2 separate regions of the Homo sapiens genome follow, and region 2 is linked to region 1. The links come from fine-mapping of genetic effects on gene expression. A gene starts in region 1. The other region holds a variant in brackets. All regions are shown on one strand. Distances are from middle to middle. Region 1 holds the start of HSD17B14 (hydroxysteroid 17-beta dehydrogenase 14). Region 2 holds the start of PPP1R15A (protein phosphatase 1 regulatory subunit 15A).

Region 1 (5,366 bases):
CAAATGATTCTCCTTCCTCAGCCTCCCTAGTAGCTGGAATTACAGGCACCCACCACCATGCCTGGCTAACTTTTTTGTATTTTTTGGTAGAGACTGGGTTTCACCATGTTGGCCAGGGTGGTCTCGAACTCCTGACCTCAAGTGATCCGCCCGCCTCGGCCTCCCAAGGTGCTGGGATTACAGGGATAAGCTGTCGCACCTGGCCTGCTTTTTTTTTTTTTTTTTTAATTTTTAATTTTTGTTGGTACATACTAGGTATACATATATTTACGAGATAATTGAGATGTTTTGATACAGGCAGGCAATGTGAAATAAGCACATCATCGGGAATAGGGTATCCATCCCCTTTCAAGGATTTACCCTTTGATGTATAAACAATCTAGTTACACCCTTTAATTTATTTAAAAATGTACAATTAAATTATTATTGACTATAGTCATTCTGTTGTGCTATCTAATAGTAGGTCTTATTCATCCTTTTCTTTTTGTACCAATTAACCATCCCCCACCTCTCCCCCATGTACACACCCCCACCCCCAATCTTCTTTTTTTTTCTAGTCCAAGGAACACCACCCCTTACTTGCCGACTTCCGAAGGTCACCGGGAGCGGGTTCTCAGCCTCTCCCAAGCCCTGGCTACTGAGGCGTCGCAGTGGCACAGAATGATGACAGGTGACTGGCTGGGGATGTTGGACTTCTGGGTTTTAGGGAGGAGAGAGCTGGAGACCTGGAATCCCAGGTCCTGGAGAGGAGGGGTCTGGGGGCCGGTGAGAATTTTTTATCTTGGTGAGTAAAGAGTTGGGCAGGGTTTGGGAGTTTTAGGTCTCAGGCAAGAGGTGACTGGGGTCCGGGACACTTGGGAGGAGGGGAGGAAGAGGTCAGGGGGCGGGGAGAGGGCCGACAACTGAGTCTCAAAGAGGACTGGACTGGCGTATCCAGACTCCTGGATCTGAGGGAGGAGGGGCTGGGGGCCTGGACTCCTGGGTCTGAGGGAGGAGGGGCTGGGGGCCTGGACTCCTGGGTCTGATGGAGGAGGGGCTGGGAATCCGGAGTCCTGGGTCTGAGGGAGGAGGGGCTGGGAATCCGGGGTCCTAGCGCTGAGGTTTGCCATTCTCATGTCCCACTCATCCTCTCCAGGTGGAAATTTGGACTCCCAGGGAGACCCTCTTCCCGGTGTGCCGCTGCCTCCTTCGGACCCCACGCGCCAGGAGACCCCTCCCCCCAGATCTCCCCCGGTGGCTAATTCGGGTTCCACGGGGTTCTCTCGCCGAGGGAGTGGGCGTGGAGGAGGTCCCACCCCCTGGGGGCCCGCGTGGGATGCCGGGATCGCCCCTCCGGTCCTGCCACAAGACGAGGGGGCATGGCCTCTGCGAGTCACTCTGCTACAATCCAGCTTCTAATCCGCCCAAAAGCGGCAGCCAATCGGAGCGCGAGGACGTGGTCTGGAGGTACCGCCGGAGATCTGGGACCACTCAGGGCATCAGGGGGCGTGGTCTGGTCCCCATTGCGGGCCCGGGAGGGGAATGGTTTCTATGGCCAAAGTTTGGTTTTCTCAACACTGTCTAAATTTGGATTAAAACTTTGAACTTTTAGTCAATAGCTTTCTTTCTGTCTGTCTGGGGTTGTGGCACTGGTGTCTCTGAGGGGCAGAGCTGGAGTCGTGGACTCCTGGGTCCTGAGAGAGGAAGGGACAGGGGGCTTGGACTTATAGGTCTCTGGGAAGAAGGGATAGAGAACCTGATCCCTCGGTCTGAGAGTGGAGGGGGCTGGGCCAGGATTCCCGGGTCTGAGGGAGGAAGGGGTGGGACCCTGACTCCTGGGTCTGAGGGAGGAGGGACTGGGAGGCTGGACTCCCGGGTCTGAGGGAGGAGGGGCTGGGACCCTGACTCCTGGGTCTGAGGGAGGAGGGGCTGGGAGGCTGGACTCCCGGGTCTGAGGGAGGAGGGGCTGGGAGGCTGGACTCCCGAGTCTGAGGGAGGAGGGGCTGGGGGCCTGGACTCCCGAGTCTGAGGGAGGAGGGACTGAGGCTTCTGGATTCCTGGGTCTGTGGGAGGAGGGACTGGGGCTCCTGGATTCCTGGGTCTGTGGGAAGAGAGGAGTGTCTGAGGGAGGAGGGGCTGGGGACAAACTTCCAGGTCTCTAGCCTTCCTGGCAACGCCCCCCGAGGCCGGACTTCCAGGATCCAGCCTCTATTGAGGATTTGATGCGACGGCCTCACGGGGCTTTGGAGGTGAAAGAGGCCCAGAGTAGAGAGAGAGAGAGACCGACGTACACGGGATGGCTACGGGAACGCGCTATGCCGGGAAGGTGGTGGTCGTGACCGGGGGCGGGCGCGGCATCGGAGCTGGGATCGTGCGCGCCTTCGGTGAGCCGGGTCTGACTGCTGGGAGCTGTGGAGTGTGAGAAAGGAAGGATGGGGGCGGGGTGATGGGGGCGGAAAATAGGGACTCCAGTACTGCAGCCAGGATTCTGATATTATAAAAGCCAATTTGCAGGCTAAAGTAAGCGTGTGGCGCTGTAGGCTAGGGCTGAGTCTGGCAGGGTCTCCGAAGGCAGTGGCCCCTTTCTCTGGGTCTGTTGGTGTAGCTACAAAACCAGTGGTTTGAGGAATGGCTCTGTCAGTCGTGGAGTTTGCTCCGGAAGCCACGAACGGGGGTTCAGGAGCCTCAGCAGAAACAAGGCAAGGAGAGTATGTGTCAAGGCGTCTGCCCTCTGTCCTATGGGTGATCATGAGACTGGGGTCACGAGGGGAGAGGGAGATCAGCCCCAATCCAGGTGGCCACAAGAGGGCGGCAGAGGCTTTAACCAAGGCTCGGAGAGTAACCTGTTCCCTTCCTATTCTCAGTGAACAGCGGGGCCCGAGTGGTTATCTGCGACAAGGATGGTGAGTGACGGTCCCTCAGCCCTCACCTTGGCCCTTCCTCCCTCAGACCCAGAGGTCCAGACCCCTAGCACCTCCTCCCTCAGACCCCGGAGTCCAGGCCCCCAGGCCCTACTTCCTCAGACCCAGGAGTCCAGACCTCAGCCCCTCCTCCCTCAGACCTAGGAGTCCAGGCCCCCAGCCCCTCTGCCCTCAGACCCAGGAGTCCAGGTCCCCAGCCCCTCCTCCCTCAGACCCAGAAGTCCAGGCTCCGGCACCTCCTCCCTCAGACCCAGGAATCCAAGTCCCCAACCCCTCCTCCTTCAGACCCAGGGGTCCAGGCTCCCAGCCCCTCTTCCCTCAGACCCAGGAGTCCAGGCTCTGGCACCTCCTCCCTCAGACCCAGGAGTCCAGGCCCCCAGGCCCTACTTTCTCAGACCCAGGAGTCCAGACCTCAGCCCCTCCTCCCTCAGACCCAGGAGTCCAGGCTCCCAGCCCCTCCTCCCTCAGACCCAGGAGTCCAGGCCCCCATCCCCTCCTCCCTCAGACCCAGGAGTCCAGGCCCCCAGCCCCTCCTCCCTCAGACCCAGGAGTCCAGGCTCCCAGCACCTCCTCCCTCAGACCCAGGAGTCCAGGCCCCCAGGCCCTACTTCCTCGGACCCAGGAGTCCAGACCTCAGCCCCTCCTCCCTCAGACCCAGGAGTCCAGGCCCCCAGCCCCTCCTCCCTCAGACCCAGGAGTCCAGGCTCCCAGCACCTCCTCCCTCAGACCCAGGAGTCCAGGCCCCCAGGCCCTACTTCCTCGGACCCAGGAGTCCAGACCTCAGCCCCTCCTCCCTCAGACCCAGGAGTCCAGGCCCCCAGCCCCTCCTCCCTCAGACCCAGGAGTCCAGGCTCCCAGCCCTTCCTCCCTCAGACCCAGGAGTCCAGGCCCCCAGGCCCTACTTCCTCGGACCCAGGAGTCCAGACCTCAGCCCCTCCTCCCTCAGACCCAGGAGTCCAGGCCCCCAGCCCCTCCTCCCTCAGACCCAGGAGTCCAGGCTCCCAGCCCCTCCTCCCTCAGACCCAGGAGTCCAGGCTCCCAGCCCCTCCTCCCTCAGACCCAGGAGTCCAGGCTCCCAGCCCTTCCTCCCTCAGACCCAGGAGTCCAGGCCCCCAGGCCCTACTTCCTCGGACCCAGGAGTCCAGGCTCCCAGCCCTTCCTCCCTCAGACCCAGGAGTCCAGGCCCCCAGGCCCTACTTCCTCGGACCCAGGAGTCCAGGCTCCCAGCCCTTCCTCCCTCAGACCCAGGAGTCCAGGCCCCCAGGCCCTACTTCCTCAGACCCAGGAGTCCAGACCTCAGCCCCTCCTCCCTCAGACCCAGGAGTCCAGGCCCCCAGCACCTCCTCCCTCAGACCCAGGAGTCCAAGTCCCCAACCCCTCCTCCCTGAGACCCAGGGGTCCAGGCTCCCAGCTCTTCTCTCCCTGCAGAGTCTGGGGGCCGGGCCCTGGAGCAGGAGCTCCCTGGAGCTGTCTTTATCCTCTGTGATGTGACTCAGGAAGATGATGTGAAGGTAAGCCGAGTTCCTGTTCCTACCCCCATCTCCGCTAATGACCAGTTCTTTGTTCTCCTCCAGCCATTTGCATATGCCTTTCCCTCTACTTTTCCTTCCTCTCCTGGCTCCGCTGGACTCGTCAAAGGTTTCCACCCAGTGTCACTCCACACACAAGGTCTTCTGTGACTGATGGGCAGGTCACATGTTCCTTCTGTCACACCTCTCCAAGGCTCTTAGCACATTTAACATGTGGATGGAAATGAATAAGTCCCTCAAAGTGGGTCAACTGGAACTGATTTTTCTGTCTCTTTTTTTTGTAAGTGTCACTGAGGCTGGAGTGCAGTGGTGTGATCTCGGCTCACTGCAACCTCAGCCTACCGAGTTCAAGCCATTCTCCTATCTCAGCCTCCCGAGTAGCTGGGATTACAGGTGTGCGCCACCATGCCCGGCTAATTTTTTTTTTTTTTAAGACAGAGTTTCGCTCCTGTTGCCCAGGCTGGAGTGCAATGGTGTGATCTCGGCTCACCGCAACCTCTGCCTCCCAGCTTCAAGTGATTCTCCTCTCTCAGCCTCCCGAGTAGCTGAGATTTCAGGCATGTGCCACCACACCTGGCTAATTTTGTATTTTTAGTAGAGACGGTGTTTCTCCATGTTGGTCAGGCTGGTCTCGAACTCCCAACCTCAGATGATCCGCCCGCCTCAGCCTCCCAAAGTGCTGGGATTACAAGCATGAGCCACCGTGTCTGGCTAATTTTTGTAGTTTTAGTAGAGACAGGGTTTCACCATGTTGGCCAGGCTGGTCTCGAACTCCTGACCTCAGGTGATCCGCCCACCTCAGCCTCCCAAAGTGTTGGGATTACAGGTGTGAGCCACTGCACGTGGCCTGTATGTAACTGATTTTTTCTCCATTATTTCTGGGTTCCTATTTCTTCCTTTTAATCAGTATCTCTCTGTTATCTGCCCCCCTTGGGCA
Region 2 (5,358 bases), 37 kb before region 1:
GGGAGGGCGGGGAAGAGAGAGAGAGAAGCAAACAAAAATTAGTTATTACACAAAAATGCTTTCTATCTGGCTAGTCACTTGCCTGTCACTGTCACGGGATTCTCTATCTATCTGACTCACTGAAGGAAGAGGTGGTTTCCTGGGGCTGCTGTGAGCCACAGCTGCTCCCTCCTCCCCCAGGGGCCTGGCCTCTTACAAGGGATTGCGTGACAGCGTACACAGCCTTCTCCATGGAGATGACATGCAACCCTCTGCAACATACAGGGACCCAGAAGTCTCGGCCCCCAGCCCCCTTTCTTTCTAAGACTCAAGAATCTGGGCTCTCAGCCAGATGTGGTAGCTCACGCCTGTAATCCCAGCACTTTGGGAGGCTGAGATGGGTGGATCACGTGATGTCAGGAGTTTGAGACCAGCCTGGCCAACATGGCAAAACCCCCGTCTCTACTAAAAATACAAAAAAAATTAGCTGGGTGTGGTGTCATGCGCCTGTAATCCCAGATACTCTGGAGGCTGAGGCACGAGAATCGCCTGAACTTGGGCGGCAGAGGTTGGCAGTGAGCCAAGATCATGCCGCTGCACTCCAGCCTGGGTGACAGCCCAAGACTCCAACTCAATTAAAAAAAAAAAAAAAATAGAATCTGGGCTCTCAGCACCTACCTTTCTGGCCTTTAGGGGAGTCTCAGGGTCCGGATCATGAGTAGGGGTTTCTGGGCGCTTGAGCCGCCTTTGCAGTCGGAGGGGCAGCCTAGGAGGAGCCCAGGGAGGCGGTGGCTTCTCTCCAGGTACATAGATGGCCACTCGGAAGGGGCAGGGCTCAGCTTCTCCCCAGTCCTCAGCAGCTTCCTCTTCCTCTGTCTCTTTTCCAGGTCGATATCCCCAGCCCCTGAAGTGGGCCCTCTGGTCCGGGTGGGAGGGATGTGGGTCTGACTCAGCTTCTCCCAAGGCTGCTTCTGAATCATCTTCCTTATCCTCACTATCCACATCCTCATCTTCCTCCTCCTCCGTGTCCTCTCCTGGCCGATACACCCAGGCCTTCAAGAAAGCACTTGCAGGGGGTGTGGAAGCAGAAGTCTCAGCTTCTCTTTCATCCTCGGCTGATCCTGTATCACTGTCCTCATCTTCCTCCTCCTCTGTGTCCTCTCCTGGCTGATAGACCCAGGACTTCAAGAAGACACCTGTAGCAGGAGTGGAAGAGGAAGCCTCAGCTTCTCCCTCTTCCTCATCTGATCCAGAGTCACTGTCCTCATCTTCTTCCTCATCTTCCTCTTCCTCTGTGTCCTCTCCTGGCCAATACACCCAGGCCTTCAGGAAGGCACTTGGTGGGGGGATGCAGGGAGGACACTCAGCTTCTCCATCCTTCTCAGCTGCCCCCAAAGCCTTGACCTCACCCTCCTCTTCATCACTGGGTTGGCACCACCAGGACTTGAGCTGGGGCCTCTGGGCTGGGGCTGAGGATTGCGGCCCTGGGGCAGCTTCTCCTTTCCCAGTTTCTTTGTGTGCCTTTTCCTCCTTCTCCTCGGACGCCTCTCCTGAACGATACTCCCAGGACCTGGGGTCGGAGCCTGAAGATCGGGGGGACACGGAGGTCTTCCTGGCTCCTTTACTTCTTTCTGTTCTTTTATCCTCCGTGGCTTGATTCTCTTCCTCCCCTGGGCAAGACACCCAAGTGCTGGGCTTGGATCCTGGAGACAAGGCAGAAGTAGAGGTTCTGTGAGCTTCTTTCTTTACAGCTTCTTCATCGTCCTCCTCCTCCACGGCTGGACAACACTCCCGGTGTGATGGTGGATAAGAGAACTTGTTAACTCCCTCCTCTTCAGCAACTCCCTCTTCCTCGGCTTTCTCCTCCCCTGGGTTCTTATCAGAACCTTGCAGTGTCCTTATCAGAAGGCTGGGAGACAGGGGAGCACGCTGGCCATCTGCAAATTGACTTCCCTGCCCTCTAGGGACACTGGTTGCCTCTCGCTCACCATACATGCCATCATCATCATCCAAAAGTCCCCAGGCTTCAGGAAGGGAACTGCTGGTTTTCAGCCCCAGTGTTTCTCTGTCCTCTCCAGGGCCTCCACTGTCTTCAGCCTCCTCTTCAGGGCGTCTGCCCCAAGGGGTATGGGGGATTGCCAGAGGAGTCCTAGCTTCTCCCTCCAGGCCAGCTTCTACCAGAGCTGCTCCTTTTACTGCTTCCACCAGCCAGGGCTCTAGAGGTCCCAGGCCCCTCAGGCGGCTCCAGGCGCGGCTGAGGAGGCCCATCACTGGGGACAGGAGGAAGAAAGGGTGGGCATCCCTCCACGGGGTAGCCTGATGGGGTGCTTGGCCTGGGGCCATGTGTCTGGGCTGGAAAAGGGGGAGAAAAAAATAAAGTTTAGGGGCCATTTAGAGGATGGCATCCGGGCGTGACTATGAGTCATAGCAACGGAAATAGTAACACAACTATTGTAAATAGCAACGCGAGAGTCCCAAATTCCTTTCTGATCTCGGCCACGCCCATCTCTGTCCCTTGGCTCTGTTCTTATCTCTCAATAGCCAGGAGTCTGAGCCCCTA[GT/T]TCTGCCTTAGATCCAAGGGTCCAAGCCCCCAGCCCTCTCTTTCTTCAGACGCAGAACTCCCAGTCCCAAGAACCAAGAACAAAAGTCTTTACTTGCTTCCCTTGGCGACAAAGTCATAGTCCCTAGCTCTCTCATTCTGCTGAAGATTGACAAATCAAACCCTCACACCCTCCTCCCTCGCAGACTGAAACATTCTGACCCGACCCCCTACTTGGCAGATGATTCCTTCACGGGGGACCCAAGAATCTGGCTTCCAGATCCCTCCTCCCTCAGGCTCAGGACTCCAGGCTCCCAACCCCTTCTCCTTTCTAAATCCGGGCCCCCAGCCCCGTGGGGACCCAGGCGTTCCGACCCCTTACTCACCGGCTGGGAGCTGCGCGTCACCCCGGGGGCAGGAGCGCCGGTTCGGTCTGCCAGAAGCGATCACAGGTCCGGACGGTTAGGGAGGCCAGCGCGTTCATCTCACCCTCAGGCGTCGGGCTCCGAGTAACTCAGAGTATCTCCGGCTGCCTCAAGTGCCGTGGCGACAAGCGGGCGCGGGGTCGTGCAGCGTCTTGCATAAGATCAACAACTGGGATGGGAACCGATAAGAGCAACGAACACAATGGCCACTAGGCTTTTATAGCCTACCGCGCCCGGCGTGCTGACGTCACGAAGAGAGGCGGGGTTTCGAGACCGCAACCCGAAGGGTGGGAAGTGGAAGTAAGACAGGACTTCTCGCGGAGATTCCAGCTTTTGCAACGTCACGGCGGAGTTTCCGAGCGTGACCACGCCCCTCCAACAAACGAACTGTCAATCAAATGCGTGGCCCTGCTTCAACAGCGAGCCAGTTCTCTCTCAGCTCAGGGTCAATGCCTTCCCACCCCAATTTATTTATTTATTTAGTTAGTTATTTTGAGGCGGAGTTTTGCTCTTGTTGCTCAGGCTGGAATGCAAAGGGGCGATCTCGGCTCACCGCAACCTCCGCCTTCGGGGTTCAAGCGATTCTCCTGCCTCAGCATCCCGAGTATCTGGGATTGCAGGCATGTGCCGCCACGCCCGGCTAATTTTGTATTTGTTTAGTAGAGACGTAGTTTCTCCATGTTGGTCAGGCTGGTCTGGAACTCCCGACGTCAGGGGATCCTCCCGCCTTGGCCTCCCAAAGTGCTGGGATTGCAGGCATGTGCCGCCACGCCCGGCTAATTTTGTATTTGTTTAGTAGAGACGTAGTTTCTCCATGTTGGTCAGGCTGGTCTGGAACTCCCGACGTCAGGGGATCCTCCCGCCTTGGCCTCCCAAAGTGCTGGGATTACAGGCGTGAGTCACCGCGCCCGGCCTATTTATTTATTTATTTATTCATTATTTATTTTTCTGAGACGGGATTTCACCATGTTTGCTAGGCTGGTCTCGAACTCCTGACCTCAGGTGTTCTGCCTGCCTTGGCCTCCCAAAGTGCTGGGATTGCAGGCGTGAGCCACCACTCCAGGCCTATTTATTTATTTGTTATTTTTTATTTTTTTATTTTTTTTTGAGATGGAGTCTCGCTCTGTCACCGAGGCTGGAGTGCAATGGCGTGATCTCGGCTCACTGCAACCTCCATCTTCCGGGTTCAAGCGATTCTCCCTCTTCAGCCTCCGAGTAGCTGGGATTACAGGCACGCACTACCACACTCAGCTAATTTTTTGTATTTTTAGTAGAGACAGTGTTTCGCCATGTTGCCCAGGCTGTTCTCGAACTCCTGAGCTCAGGCAGTCTGCCTGCCTCGGCTTCCCAAAGTGTTAGGATTATAGGCGTGAGCTACTGCACCCAGCCTATTTATTTTTTGAGTAGGCGTCTCACTCTGTCGCCCAGGCTGGAGTTCAGTGGCGCCATCTCGGTTCACTGCAACCTCCACCTCCTGGGTTCCAGCGATTCTCCTGCCTGAGCCTCTGGAGTAGCTGGGATTACAGGCATGTGCCACAATGCCTGGGTAATTTTTGTATTTTTAGTAGAGACAGTGTTTCGCCATGTTGACCAGGCAGGTCTTTTTTTTTTTTTTTTTTTTTGAGACGGAGTCTTGCTCTGTCGCCCAGGCTGGAGTGCAGTGGCACGATCTTGGCTCACTGCAAGCTCCTCCTCCCTGGTTCTCGCCATTCTCCTGCCTCAGCCTCCCTAGTAGCTGGGACTACAGGTGCCCACCACCACGCCCGGCTAATTTTTTTTGTATTCTTAGTAGAGACGGGGTTTTTCACCGTGTTAACCAGGATGGTCTCGATCTCCTGACCTTGTGATCCACCCGCCTCGGCCTCCCAAAGTGCTGGGATTACAGGTGTGAGCCACCGCACCCGGCCGACCAGGCTGGTCTTGAACTCCTGACCTCAGGTGATCTGCCCGCCTTGGCTTCCCAAAGTGCTGGAATTACAGTTGTGATCCACTGTGCCTGGCCTCCTACCCCAATTTAGCCCACAGGCCCCAGCCTAGAGTCTCCCATTTTCTTTTTTTTTTCTTTTCTTTCTTTTTTCTTTTTCTTTCTTTTTTTTTTTTTTTTTTTGAGACGGTGTCTCACTCTGTCACCCAGGCTGGAGTGCAATGGCATGATCTTGGCTCACTGCAACCTCCGCCTCCCGGGTTCAAGCAATTCTCCTGCCTCAGCCTCCTGAGTAGTTGGGAGTACAGGAGCTTGCCACCACGCCTGGCTAGAGTCTCCTATTTTCACATGTGGTTGGTTTCCTCCCCGAGTGCGAGGGTGTCATTGTTCCCATTTCACAGATGGGGAAACAGGCTTGGAAATGAAGCCACTTGACCAAGATAGTCACAGCAGGGTCCAGATTCCTTGCAAATGAGAATGAGGATGTAAGC

Evidence for each region.
Region 2: its variant is fine-mapped to the expression of HSD17B14 in stomach (GTEx, PIP 0.91).

What each region holds. Positions count from the first base shown.
Region 1 is chr19:48,833,321-48,838,686 of GRCh38, reverse strand. HSD17B14 (hydroxysteroid 17-beta dehydrogenase 14) reads left to right here and starts at 2,196. Exons shown (of 9, transcript NM_016246.3): 1 at 2,196-2,363; 2 at 2,844-2,882; 3 at 4,329-4,411. The coding sequence starts at 2,276. It overlaps PLEKHA4 (pleckstrin homology domain containing A4), which reads left to right. Exons shown (of 20, transcript NM_020904.3): 19 at 558-670; 20 at 1,136-1,590. The coding sequence ends at 1,398. RefSeq lists a silencer at 1,219-1,288.
Region 2 is chr19:48,870,198-48,875,555 of GRCh38, reverse strand. PPP1R15A (protein phosphatase 1 regulatory subunit 15A) reads right to left here and starts at 3,135. Exons shown (of 3, transcript NM_014330.5): 1 at 2,905-3,135; 2 at 658-2,331. The coding sequence starts at 2,322. RefSeq lists enhancers at 1-379, 590-639, 1,129-1,741, 1,848-1,897, 1,742-2,352 and 5 more and cis regulatory regions at 668-1,188, 1,568-2,068, 2,228-2,728, 2,915-3,488. The variant GT/T (reference allele first, on the strand shown) is at 2,540.